2 linked regions of the Homo sapiens genome follow. The protein of the gene in region 2 interacts with the protein of the main gene of each other region in a biochemical or structural test. Each region holds a gene or a part of one and is shown on either strand. Other genes may lie near its edges.

The links.
Region 1: the proteins of TRIM40 (region 2) and ROCK1 form a complex in vitro, tested with the Homo sapiens proteins (one study listed by BioGRID).

What each region holds. Positions count from the first base shown.
Region 1 is NC_000018.10:21,003,798-21,010,827, forward strand, and holds part of ROCK1 (rho-associated protein kinase 1), read right to left. Parts: intron 4,398-7,030; coding exon 4,262-4,397; intron 2,994-4,261; coding exon 2,902-2,993; intron 2,801-2,901; coding exon 2,554-2,800; intron 1-2,553. UniProt on the Homo sapiens protein: Protein kinase which is a key regulator of the actin cytoskeleton and cell polarity.
Region 2 is NC_000006.12:30,131,383-30,139,150, reverse strand, and holds the start of TRIM40 (E3 ubiquitin ligase TRIM40), read right to left. Parts: upstream 3,012-7,768; 5' UTR 2,962-3,011; intron 2,740-2,961; exon of another isoform or gene 2,419-2,739; 5' UTR 2,115-2,418; coding exon 1,770-2,114; intron 1-1,769. UniProt on the Homo sapiens protein: E3 ubiquitin-protein ligase that plays a role in the limitation of the innate immune response. Mediates inhibition of the RLR signaling pathway by ubiquitinating RIGI and IFIH1 receptors, leading to their proteasomal degradation.

The sequences.
Region 1 (7,030 bases), on a different chromosome or scaffold from region 2:
TCAAGGATTTCAGATTTGGGATACTCAACTGGTAAGTATACATAATGCAAATATTCTCACAAACCACCCAAAATCCAAAATCTGAAGCACTTCTGGTTCCAAGCAAACAATTAAAAAAAACAGAAAAAGACTTTTAAAAATGGTTAATTTAAAAAAATTGATTTTTGCCTTTCAATCTGAAGAATCAGAGATAAACTTACTAGATGAAAGCTTATCAATTCAGTTAAAATTTCAATCCTCCATAACATTTTGATCACTTTCATTAAGCCTCTATAGCCTGAACTTTTGGAAACTTTCCCTATAATCAATTGCAGCCTTACTGTTGCACTAGTCCAGGTACTGGCAAACATCAGGGCTGCAGCCTGTTTCTGTACAGATGTCAAGCTAAGAATGGTTTTTATACTTTAAAAGGTTATAAAAAGTAAAAAATAAAAAAGACTATGCAACAGAGATCATATATGGAGGACATTCAATTAATGAATAACAATCAAGACTCTGCCAGAAGCCCACCATCCCAAACTAAATTTATACTTGAGAGACCTGAAAGTTCTTAAAGACCAGAAAAGACTAATATAAGCATTGTGATTTTTTTAAAAACCCACAATGCACTTTTATATGTATGTTGAAACTCACATAAGTTGTGTGCATTATTTTAGTGTATGTGAGCTTTTATTCACGTTTAAGTTCCAAATTAAACTCTGAAAAAGAATAAACTAACAATAAATCATGCTATAAATTTTCCTTAACTTTTACTGATATCTAAAAAATAGATTCAGTTAAAAACCACTGTTGATAGTACATGGATGATCTCTGCCTCTGAAGCAAGGAGCTTAAAGCTCAGTCAAACACAGATCACAAACTTATAAGAATTTTAGAATTGGAAGGATTTATAGAGGTAACCTATTCTTATCTCCTTGGTTTACAGATAAAGAAGGGAGATGAAGAGACTTTCAAACAGCTAATAAGCTGTATAAAAAGGCCTAGGAAAACAATTTAAGGAAGTCTGTGACTTTCCTATTACATATAAAGTGGTTACTTTCTTAGTTATAATCAGATCTATTTTAAGCCTGGTCCCTGAGAAATATGATTGCACAACACTCCTCAGCTAAGAACCAACAGGAGATTGTATTTTCTGTTTCCTTAGTCACAAAAACTGACCCTGACCTCTCTCCACTGAATTATAGCTAATCATCAAGCCCCAAGGGACCTGAAACTATGTTCCCATCTCTAACTAAGGTTAAAAAGAACTCCTCCCTCCAATTTTTTCCTGAGACATCTGGCAACTTCTATGCATATTTGTTTTGATTAGGTAGTATGGATGCTGCTGCTAACAGGAATAGAAAATAGAAAAATATGTGAGTAGGTAAAGCCAGGAATCTTTTTGAAAACAAACTGAATTTTATTACTATTTAAAAACTGTTCATTTATTCACTTAGTTATACTCAATCTTCTGCCTCTTAGATTCACAAAGACTGTCAATATCTCCAGTTCAAACATTCCCAAGTATCTAACTTTTAATGTGTAATGGGATTTTATTTCTGCAACTGACTTTCTATTACTACCAACGATGCATGAGGAATTCCTAGGTTTTAATAGTGATAATCCTCTTTGCCTGGATTAGTCTCACTTTGAGTAAAACCTTTATGAATTAGGCAAGTTTTTAAATGAAGTTTTTGGTTAATTTGTCTGTAAAACTGAAAAATATCCACATTACATACCCTGCAGGAGTACCTGTGAGGGTGAAGAAATTACAATGTGATACAAATGTGGGCATTATTCTAAAAGAGAAAGAATGCTGGCCTGGTGTGGTGTCTCACACCCATAATGCCAGCACTTTGGGAGGTCGAGGTGGGCGGATCGCTTGAGCTCAGGAGTTTGAGACCAGCCTGGGCAAAATGGTGAAACCCCGTCTCTACAAAAAATGCAAAAATTAGCTGGGCATGGTGGCATGCACCTGTAGTCCCAGCTACTCAGGAGGTTGAGGTGGGAGAATTGCTTGACCTCAGGAGTTCAAGGCTGCAGTGAGCTGTGATCATGCCGCTGCACTCCAGCCTGTGCAACAGAGCAAGTTCCTATCTCAAAAAAACGTAAACAATAAAAAAGAATGCAACCATTTCTGGTTTCACCAAAGTCATTTTCTTTATGAGGGTAATATGATCATAAATATATTAACTTAGACTTAAAAATGGTCAAGATGGTAAATTTTATGTTATATATTTTTAACAATTAAAAATAAAAATTATAAAATATTCCTTCCATTGATAGATGAGTGGATGAACAAAATGTGGTATACACATACCATGGAATATTACTGAGCCCTAAAAAGGAAGGAAAATCTGACACACACAACATGGATAAACCTTGAAGACATTGTGCTAAGTGAAAAAAGCCAGACGCAAAAGGACAAACACTGTATGATTCCACTTATATGATGATGGTTGCATACATTGTGAACTGCATTTAATCCCACTGAACTGTATATATAAAAATGGTTAAAATGTTATAATAAATTTCATGTTACGTATATTTTACCACAATAAGAAAAAATATTACCTTGAAGGTCTCCAATCATCTCAGAATCATGACCTCTGTCTCTTCGTTCAGCTTCTAATATAGCTTGCAGCTGGTAATAATCTTTGTCTGTTTGTGACTTAGAATTCTCTAAAATTCGATTTCTCTCTTGCAACTCTCTGTTCAGGGACTCTAACTGACTAATTGACTTGCTCATCTCTGTGTGACTCTTCCTCAATCTTACAGCTGTGTCCGATTCTGTCCTAAGTAAGTCATTGGCTTCTTCTAGCTATTTAAAAAGAAAGCAAAAAAATAGGTTTCTGACCAAAGTACGATATAATTTAATTATCTACAATTTTTTTAAAAAGGAACCTCATTTGAAACACTTACCTGCTTTTGTAACTGGGACAGCTTCTCATTAGCAAGCTGTGAATTCTGACTGACTTTCTTTAAGTCTTCCAACTGATCCTTTAATGTAGAAACTAGAAAATGAAAGAATAATATATAGAAATTACAACATTTTCATAGGGGAAACATATAAATCCTTTTTTAAAAAAAGACATTTAGTCTTAGGCCATAATAGTCAGCTACATTAGGTCCACTCCCAAAGCCAAATTCCAATTTGGAAGTACCTGCATTTTAAATTCATTAAAAAGTAGAACATTATCTTCTAATACAGAGTGCAAAAAGATTTCTTCTTACTGTTGTAAATCTCAAACTCCTTTATTCCCTTTATAAGATCACTGATAGTATACTTATAAAGCTAGTTTTAATATTATTTATTTTTCAAGAGTTCAATTGCTTGATAATTCAATATCTTAATAAAAATACAAAATTTAAAAGGTACCAAATGGTAGATAGTATAGAATAAGTCCTCCTTTCTCCATTTAGTCATTTTTGCCCCTTCTGAGTCTCCCTTAACTGGCTCTCCTCCCTAATATATATTTAATTTAAGCATATATAGACAAGTACTCTTGTTTTAAACACAAGCAATCCGTTTCTGTCACTTAAAGATCTGTCTTAGAGACTGTTTTATAACCGTATTTAAGGAGATGATTTATTATTTTTTATAAGCCACATAGTATTCTACCATATAGATGTACTAAAATTTATTACAGCATTCATTACCTTTATGTTTCATATATGTATTACATTATGTTTCATATACAGCATTGACTGCATTTTTTTTGTCATTTTAAACAATGCTACAATGAATAGCCTTGTGTATATATCAGTTTGCAGTAGGAGTATGTACGTGAAATAACTTATGGAAGTGAAATTACTGCATCAATGGGAGTAGAAAGGTATTTTAAATATATTTGTAACACAAGCATTAAAACACAAGAAATTCTGGTTTAGAAGTTCTTAGACGCAGCTGCTTGTTAGAAGTACCTAGGGGGCTTGTAAAGAATAATGATACTCAGGCCACATATCTAGACCAATTAAATTAGAATCGCTGGGATTTAGGCATCAGTACTCTTTAAAGCTTCCCAGGAGATTCCAGTATGCACACCATGATGACAATCACTACTCTAGTTAAATGCTACTTACTATTTACTTTAATATGTAATTTAATATTTAATTTAATTACTATTTAATATGTTATAAATTTAACCTGAGACCTGGGTTATTTAGCTTATAAAGTGTCTTAGGATTGTAGCTTCATGTATGTATCATGGACACTAAATTAAAGACAACCTCATGACAGTGTTAGAAATTCTATCATTTTTCAAAAGTAGTGACAATTTACCTTCATTTTCTACATTTCTTCTCTTCTCATTTTCCTGTTCAGCTTTTCTTTGGTACTCATTAATTCTATGCTGTAGCAACATTTTCTCCTTCTCAATCTGAGACACTGTAGATTCTAGATTTCTTCTTTGATTTCCCTGGAATTATAATGATAAAAGTTACCACTGTGATTAATACTCTGGTCATTCATTCAAGTGAGTATTTTGTTCTTAAAAACAAAAAACAAGAAAAAAAAAAAGACAAACACTTAAGATGAATGTTCTGTTTCAAACGCAAATAGTATCTCCTAATACAACTTTCTAAGTAGCTTGCCTTTTAAGAAGACAGTGGGAATCTGTCTTCTGTAGCTGGGACTACAGGGACGCACCACTGCGTCCAGCTAATTTTTCTATTTTTGGTAGAGACGGCTTTTGCCATGTTGGCCAGGCTGGTTTTGAACTCTTGACCTCAGGTGATCCGCCTGCCTCAGCCTCCCAAAGTACTGGGATAACAGGCATGAGCTACTGTGCCCAGCCTAAAATACCCAAATTTTCACAACTTAAAAATGTACCTTTCTGAGTTACCACTATCAGTAAATCTTGTTTTTGATGCTTCACTTTTTAAGACTCCACATTAGGAAACCTGTTTTACAGTGTTTCTGGGCTTTCTCATCTTTAAGCAGAAATTGGACATAAATCATTCAAGGTCTTTCTGATTCTAAGAGTTTATCATTCTAACTTTTAGTTAATTTTTAGATAATTATACATTCAAAGAAAGTTGCAAAGATAGTACAGAGAGGTCCCAAGTGCCCTTCCACTCAGCTTCCCCCAGTAGAGACATTATATATAACAATAGTACAATAACAAAATCAGAAAATTCTCACTGGTATAAGGAGTGTATGATTCTCTCATTTTATCACATATGTAGGTTCATGTAAGCACCACCACAACGAAGATACAGAACTGGTCATCACAACAATTTCTTTCCAGTCACTAGTTATAGCCACACCCATCCCCGTCCTCCCACCACCCATACTCCTGGCAACTAATGGTTCTCCATTTCTATAATTTTGTCTTTTTGAGAATGTTATATAAATGGAACCATGCAATATATGACTTTTTGAGACAGGCTTTTTTTTTTTTTTTTTTTTGTATTTTTAATAGAGATGGGGTTTCACCATGTTGGCCAGGATGGTCTCGATTTCCTGACCTCGTGATCCGCCCGCCTCAGCCTCCCAAAGTGCTGGGATTACAGGCGTGAGTCACCGCGCCTGGCCAAGACAGGTTTTTTTTTTTTTTAACTCAACATAAAGACCTTAAAATCCATCTCTGTATTGTATGTATCTACAGTTTATTCCTTCTTGTGGCTGAGTATTCCATGGTACAAATGTACCGAAGTTTGTTCAACCATTCACCTACTGTAGGACATTTTGATTGTTTTCAGTTTTTGGCTATTACAAATAGAGCTGTTATAAACATTAGTATACAGGTTTTTGTGAGAATATACATTTTCATTTTTCTGGAATACATGCCCAAGAATACAATTGCTAGGTCACATAGTAGGCACATGTTTAGTTTTTCAGGAACACAGCCAATTGGTTTTCCAGAATGTCTGTACCATTTTATATCCCCATCTGCAATGTCCAAGTGATCTAGTTTCTCCATATCCTTGCCAGTTTGCTATTGACATAATTTTAAAACTTACTTTTTTTCATGGTTATGGAGTAATATTTCATGATAGTTTTAATTTGCACTTCCCAAATGACTAATTATGTGAACCTCTTTTCATAGGTTTATTTTCATCCATATATCTAAAAAGTTTAAAAAGTATGGATTCGCTTTCCTTAACACTTATATAGGGCTACTGAAATTACCTATTTCACACTGTATGAGTTGTGATAGTTTGATTTTTGAGAAGTTAGTCCCTTTCATCTACATGTCTTAATTGTGTTTAGAACTGTTCATAGGATTTCCTTATGATTCTTTTGATACCTATATGGTCTATAGTATATGCCCTATTTCATTCCTCATACTGGTAATTTGTGTCCTCTCTTTTTCCTTTATCAGTCTTGCTAGAGGTTTGTTAATTTTGTTGATCTTTTCACACAGCTTTTTGTTTCACTGATTTTCTCTATTGTTTTTCTGCTTTTAACTGCCTTGTTCTCTGCTCTTATCGTTACTTGTCCTTCCTTTTGCTTGTTTTGGGTTTATTTCACTCTTCTTATTCTAGTTTCCAGAAGTAGGAGTTTAAATTATTGATTTTAGACTTTTCCTCTTTTCTAAGGTAAGCATTTAGTGCTATAAATTAACCTTCATCACCATGTTAACAGCATCTCACAAATTTTGATGATGTATTTTCACTTCATTGTTCAAATATTTTGTAAAGATAAAGAGCCATAACAGTTTTATGAGACATAATTAACATTCCAATGTATTTTTTTCACTGAGACTTCTTCTTTGACCTCTGGGTTATTTAGAAGTTTATTGTTTGCTTTCCATGTGTTTGCAGATTTTTCTGTTATTCTCATCTGTACATTTTGGTCAGGAAACTGTATGATTTCAGTGCTTTCAAATGTGTTTGTTTTATAGCTTGGGATGTGGTCTACCTTGGTGTGTGTTCCTTAAGCACTTGAAAAGAAGGCATATTGTGCTGTTAAGCAGAGGGTTCTGTAAATGTTGAACAAATTCTGACAGCTGACAGTGTAGTTGAGTTCTCCTATGTTTGGTGATTCTTACGGGTGCTGAAGTCTCCAACAATAATTATGGATTGGTCTATTTAACCTTCCAGTCTT
Region 2 (7,768 bases):
CTTGTCATTATTTAAAGACAGATTTGAAACAAGAATTATGAATCATCTTTGTACTTTCTACAATGCCTAGCATGACATCTAACACAAAGGACAGACCTGAAAAAATCATTTAGTGAGGAAATAAATTTCTCCATCTTATGCTGCTTCATCGGCAGGTGAGGAATCCCTCCCCACTCTCCTGTGGACATTGCACCTGGAGGGAATGATGTTAGAACCAAATAGAACTTTGCCTCTGGCTTTTTCAATTATTTCTCTACCTTTCTGTAGTCACTTTTAATCTGGACTCCCCACTTTCTCATTCTGTATCATAACATGTTCTCCAAAAGTCAAGTATCTCAAAGCTACCTCAGCTTTGGAAGTTCAGCCTTCACTATTGGATAGAAGGATGCCATGTGAAAATATTGTCAATTGTCCAGTCAAATACTAACTGGATTAGGGTCAGGGGAAAGGTTGATAAAAATAATTCCAAAGCTAATTGGCAAAATAAAGATATACAAATATCTGCACGAATTCTGAAAAATAAGAGTATTGTGAGGATTCTATCAAAATACCTGACATTAAAATATATGGTAAGGATAAAATCTCTAAAATACCTTGGCTTATAGGCAAGCATAGACAGAATAGAACAGCACAAAGAATCAAGGCAGTATGCAAGAAAATATGCATATATGGTATATTATGACATTGGCATTCAAATCAATGGGGAAACTATATGAATCATTCAACAAATGGTGATAGGACAAATTGATTATAACTTGGAAAAACTAAAGTTAGATTTCTACCTTATGCTCTCACCAAAATATATCTTGGATATTCTAGGTCCTCCAATATATATGTTGAAGGATATTCATTAGAACGTTCTGTGTAATCTTAAAACAAAACAATAGCTTGGAAATGACCCAATGTCTGCCAATTTATGGTACATTCATAGAATTTAATACCACACAGTTCTTGAAAATAATTCAGAAGATCTATACATGCTGATGAGAAAATGTTCAAGCCACACTTTTAGATAACAAAAATGAGTTACAGAAAAAAATATAGAGAGAATCCTTTGAGGGTGTGTGTGTGTGTGTGTGTGTGTAAGAGTGCATTCATAAGCACACACATTTTTTGGAAGGATGTACAAAAATCAAACAATGGTTACCTCTGAGGACTATGAATGGAGGGAGAAAGGAAGACAAATTTTTAGTCTTGACTTTATACCTTTCAGTGCTTTCTGAATTTATTACCTACAGCATGTAACTTTTGTGATAGAAAATTTAACAGAATAAGATAAAATAATTGCCATAGCAAAGAAAGGAAAAGGAAAGATAAGACAAATGCAGAAGGAAGAAAAAGAGAGAAAAAATTATGTAGTAACTTTCAGGTTTTAATATATTTGCAGGATAATTACTAGTGTATATAAAACCTGATTACATTTCTAGCCAAGTTTCTAGTACTATCAACCAGGAGTTCACACAGTTTTAGTCCTGAAAGGGTTTTGCATTAGTTAGTCCAATTACTCTATTCTACAGATGAGCAGACTGGGACTCTAACATCACACTGACAATATCCTCTTTTAGACAGACTCACATTAATGCATGGAAACATCAGCCTCAAAATATACACAGAAAAGCAAGACAAGGGTCCAAAACAGGATGAAGCAGAAGAAACAAAGAGAGATGTCCATTGTTGAGCTACTCTGAGGTGCCAGGCATGATGAACATGTAGGATGCAGCACCTCAGCGAGGTGGAGGCAGGGCCTGGCTGCGGTGACCCAGGCTTACCTTGTAGTGGCTGAGGGCATTTTCAATGGTCAGTTCATGATGAGACATGTGTTCAGGGGACACCAGGCATTCCACACATAGAAGAAGTCTGCTCTCCTCACAGAACCTGCACACCCTCTTCTGGTGGTTGGGGCAGATATAGCCTGTCCCTAGCACCTCCTCAGAACAGGGCTTCCGGCAGAGGGGGCAGCAGAAGACCCCAGAGGCTGAGGCCTTCTCCACATGCTGTGTCAGGCACACTCGACAGAAGAGATGTCCGCAGTTGGTGCTCACGGCCTCCTTCAGGCTCTCCTGGCAGATGGGGCAGACACCCTCCTCCTGGTTGTCCTTCTGCAAAGGGATCATGGCCTCGTTCCTACCCTGTCAGCCTCCTGTTTGCAGGGCCTCCTTCTTCACTGGTCTTCGGAAGGCCTGTTGCCCTCAACAGTCCCAGATAAGAAGGCCCAGTCGGAAGGAGGCAGCCCTGGAGCAGCCTGGGGACAGGACACAGCCTCCAAGTTCAGGCAATTGCCCACTCTCCCTCAAGGGTGCCGTGACATAGACCACACAAACCACAATTCTGCACGAGTTTCAGAAATAGCTCATCAGCTTTGACATGGACCCTGCGGTTTCCTTGTGTTTGTTAAACTTGAAATTATTTTTCATACACCTAGAGGAAGCAAGTGATTCAATAACCAATTCTGTTTTCCTCTTGACAGCTTTCAGTGAATATTTGCACGGGCCCCAAATTAAAAGGGCAAGGTGTCATTGTCATGGCCAAAAGCCAGACCACTATAAACTTACAATTTGAGTCTCCTCTGATTTGCCATCAGTAGAGAGAGTTTGGCAGGAGTTTGGACTGTTTTCTCCTACACTGTCACACCGGGTGGCTCACTGCTGCCCATTATTACCACCAATAATTACAGCAGCATCTCCATCAGCTGGTCATTCTTCCAACCAACATCCCTCCCAGGGTCATATAGATTCCACACTGAAAGAATGAGAAAGAAAACAGGACACAGAACAGACTAGAGACTTGTATAATGTTTGAAGCCACTTTGTTCCTTCCTGTCAAATCACCACCAAAGATGACCCAAAGAAAGAAGTCCCCCGCCACCTGCCACCTCCCTTAGATACTGAGGATTCACTCTTATTCCCTCATGCTGCACCTCTTGCCTAGCCCCACTCCTGAAAAGCTTTCTTAGTATCCTACCTCAATTTCTCCTGCTACAATTTCAGATCATCTTCTCTGGCTCCAGACCTGGAGAGATGGCCAGCAGATGAGTGGTTCTTATATCATGCCAATCATATGTGTTCATATGTCAGTAAATCTCAGGGCGGGGGGTGGAAAGACTCATGCTTTCCTAGAAACACTGAATTACCAGGAAAATTACCTAGGGTAGCTGGAAGGTGAGATGGACTTTGGTGCAGGGCGTGGCTTGTTTGCTCAAGGGGAGGAGGAAGGTCTTGGGCCTTTGACGTCGATATGACAGGAAATGAGACTCAACTAAGAATGGACATCCTAGAACCCCAGCTTATGGAACCCCAGGATCCAGGTGTCACAGAATAATGGCACCCACTCAAGATGCTGGAACATCAAATGCCCACTCCATTGTCTAAGTTCCCTCCAGTCAGGCTAGTCTTGGCATTGAGTTTGAGGGAGCCCCTAAGGGGTGCCACTAATAAGGGCTGTCACTTGAAACTTCTAAGGGTCCAAGACGCTTGTTGAAAACCTCATTTCAGAGCCTCCTCCCTCAATCCCACTTTGCCACTGTTTGCTGTGGGTTGTGTGATCTTGTGAGATATATATATAATTAGTCTTGGCACAGAGCTCCTAAAACCCTTGAACAGATGATCCTTAACTTATGATGGGGTTACGTCCCAGTGAATTCACTGAAGTCAGAAATATTGTAAGGTGAAAGTGTACTCAATACCCCAGTAAACCCATCATAAAGTCAAAAATTTTAAGTTGAATCATCTTAATTCCTGATGCACCTCAACTTACCACATGGTTATGTTCTGATGAGTGTATCTTTTATTATTCATAATAAGCCCTTTTCAACCATACCAGGGTTTATGCTAATGAGGTGACTCTTGGAGGAAGAATGGGGGCTGGTTGGCAGAAGAACCATGTGATTAGAGGGTGGGATCTTTCTTTCTTTCTTTCTTTTTTTTTTTTTTTTTTTGAGACAGAGTTTCACTCTTGTTGCCCAAGCTGGAGAGCAACGGCACTATCTCAGCTCACTGCAACCTCTGCCTCCCAGGTTCCAGCGAATCTCCTGCCTCAGCCTCCCGAGTAGCTGGGATTACAGGTGCACACCACCATGCCCAGCTAATATTTTGTATTTTTAGTAGAGACGGGGTTTCACCATGTTGGCCAGGCTGGTCTCGAACTCCTGACCTCAGGTTACCTGCCTGCCTTGGCCTCCCAAAATGCTGGGATTACAGGCGTGAACCACCACGCCTGGCTGGTTGGAACTTTCAGTCTCACCTCTGACCTCTGGGGAGGGGAGAGGAGCCCAGGGACTGAGTTAATCACCAACAGCCAGTGATTTGATCAATCATACCTAAATAATGGAACCTCTGTAAGATCCTGAACAAAGAGGTTTGGAGAGATTCCAGGTTGGTGAGTGCATCCACATGCTGGGAGGGTGGCACATCCCACACTCCACCGGGGACAGAAGCTCCTGTGCTCAGGATCCTCCCAGAACTTGCCCTTCATCTGGCTGTGAAATTACCATGATCCTGGTGATTTCAAAGACTATGTACATGATCATTTAACACCAAGGCCTTTCAGTTCTTGTCCTGCTCACATCCAATGACCTTTGCTTTTGCCACCCACCCTAGTGGCCACTCTCTTGACCTTGTCAGGATTCAGATTTCACCACCTGAAATTATAAATGTAGGCATTGTACTCACTTATAGTTCTCTTCCTAAGGCATTTCCGACAATGTCTGTTTTTTAACCTTCAATCCTTGACCCCTCCACAATCTACGTTCCTGTCGTATCTCATGAAATAGTATAAGAAACAAAAATGTGGACAGATTAAGTAACCTGCCCAAGGCCACAGTGGTGTAAACATAGAGCTGGGATTCAGATCTGGGTGTCTCTTATCCCAGCCCATGGGCTTCATTACCATAAAATGTCATCTCTCTATATATACCTTTTCTTGCTCTTAGAAAGGATTCAGTAAAAGCTTGATAAATGGATGGATTAATGGACAGATGGAAAGATAGATTGATAATTAGATGTATGGATAGACAGATGAAGAAACAGCACTTTGTACCAACTTATAGTACTGACTATATAGTAACTTCTACTAGTTACTTAGGTACTTTTCTTGATTTTCCTACTGGTTTATTGAGCAACTTGAAGGCAGAAATCCACTGTATTTAACTAGCAGTAGCTTGAGAATGTTTCAAATGTAGAAACCATAAAAGGAAAGAAAGATAAATTCAGCCACATTAAAAAAGACCTGCATGGGGGAAAAAAAACCGTAAGTGCAATGTCAAGAGACAAATGACGAAATACCATTGGAAGAAGAAAAATATTTACAACTGCCATCAAAATCAAAGGGCTAATTACCTTTTATATACAGCTCTTGCAAATAAGAATTTATCAACTACCAAGAAGAAAATTGGGCAGAGGTATCTCAGCAGACATTTCATAGAAAAAGAAATACCAAATGTCTCTAAAGCATATTAAAAGATAATCTCAATCTCATGAAGAAAATACAAATTAAAATAACACTGACATACTATTTTTCCTATCAGATTGACAGAAATCCAAACATTTGGTAACACAGTGTTGGTAAGTGTGTGAGGAAATTGGCACTCCCATACACTGCTGATGGGAATGCCAATTAGTACTCCTCCTTTAGAGGAGTAGGAATTTGAGAATTTCCTCCAAGATTACAAATGTACATTCTCTTTGAGCCAGCAATTCTGATGTTAGAAATTTTACATATATATTCATGCATATGTGAAATAATATATGCATATACCTATTGCATCAATGTTTTAGAAACATTTGCTTCAAATTTTAGAAAAAAAACAAATGTTCATCAACGGAAGTTAAGCTAAATAAACTAGCTACATTCATACAATAGAACATTGTGCAGCCATTAGTAGGGGGTGGGGTGTGGAAGGGAACTTTTGCTATTGGAATAATCTCCAACATAAATTGATACATTAAAAAAAAAAAAGCTTGGCCAGGCATGGTGGCTCACGCCTGTAATCCCAACACTTTGGGAGGCCGAGACAGGTGGATCACGAGGTCAGGAGATCGAGACCATCCTGGCTAACATGGTGAAACCCTGTCTCATTAGCCGGGCATGGTGGCGGGTGCCTGTAGTCCCAGCTACTCGGGAGGCTGAAGTAGGAGAATGGCGTGAACCCGGGAGGTGGAGCTTGCAGTGAGCCGAGATTGCGCCACTGTACTCCAGCCTGGATGACAGAGCCAGACTCTGTCTCGAAAAAAAAAAAAAAAAAAGCTTAATGGTGCCCATCTCACATCAGACAGGAACAAAGCAACCCCCTGTTTATCCCAGCTTGGCTTCTGGTCTATGCCCATGCCTGGTTTATGCTTTGGACACATAGATTACTGATTTTAAAAAATAAAAATAAATTAAATTTAAAAGCAAGGTACAGAACAGTGTGTATAATATGCTATTATTTGCACAAATCGGGGAAGAATAAATATTCTTATTTGCTTTTTATGCAAAGAACATCTCTGGAAGAATATATCAATGAACTAGTAAAATTTGCTTCTGGAGAGAGAAACTAGATGTGTGGAAACCAGGGGCAAGAGGGAGACTTTTTCCTGTGTTTTTAAAATTTTGAGCCAGCAAATGTGCCATCTATCTAAACAATTACCTAAATTTTAAAATGTTTAAGAAGAGGATGGTCAGAATGAAAGGAATTCTGGACTAGTCAAAGAATCTGGATTATGGTCCTAATTGTGGAGATTTGTAGCTTCATGTTCAGGGGCAGCCACAACTTCAGCCTCCTTTACAAGAAAGTGGACAAAATGTCATAGCTGGAAATGGATGTGCTTCATAAACTACAAACTAATGCGCAACTGTCAGGGTCCTTATTTCCCTGAGTCAGCCTATTCGGCATAGCTCCTTGAATATATTAGGTGCTCAGTAACTGTTTTAAAGGAGTGATCTTATCTAATTTCTCATGCTTTAAAAATACTGGAGCCAAGAGTCAGGTGATTTTTGTCTTCTCTCTCTCCTTTATGACTCTTAATTGCCTCTGTTTTGACATTTCCCAGCAGGGAAGACCTAACTCCTACCTCTTTCACACAGCTGCTCCAAACCCTTCACATCAGTGGAAGCCCAGCTCAAGTCCCAGTTTCCTGAATGAAACTTTCCTAACAAGTCAGTCTTCATTCTGATGAATGGGGGCTGAGACCTAGCCCAGAGGTTGCTTGCCAAGCTGTGGGCTCTGGCTCAGGGCAGCAATGGCCCCAAGAAAGTGAACTGATCCATCCTAATTTTCACAAAGGTGTCAGAGGGGCCTGCAGGTTCTACATGGATCTCTCTTTCCTAAATCACCGTCTCATTTATTACCATTTGATTTTTGCCAACTTCCCTGGCTTTGGCTCACATTTAGCTTCATGAGGGATAGGACTATGTCTTTCTGTCTTTCCATACTCTCCTATGCCTATCCCAGGGCTGGGCACCCTAAACCACTCTCTAAGGGTCTCCAACTAAGTCCTAAACTCAAATCCCAGCGGTATTTTCTCAGTTCACATCCAAACTGATGACTCAAACTTTAGATCATCAGCAGTCCCCTCCTTAAAATTCTCCTCTCCACTGGCTCCTGGGTTCCCTCTCACTTATTTGATCATCCATAAAAGGAGATCTACTCTATCTTAGTGCAGCGAGGTGGAGCTACGTGGACTTCACAGGCGGAGTGTCCGGATTCAGATTCCCATTCTACCGATGCACAGTTGTTAGCACTATGCAGATCCTGTAACCTCCCTGAGGCCCGATGCCAGCTTGGTATTACTAT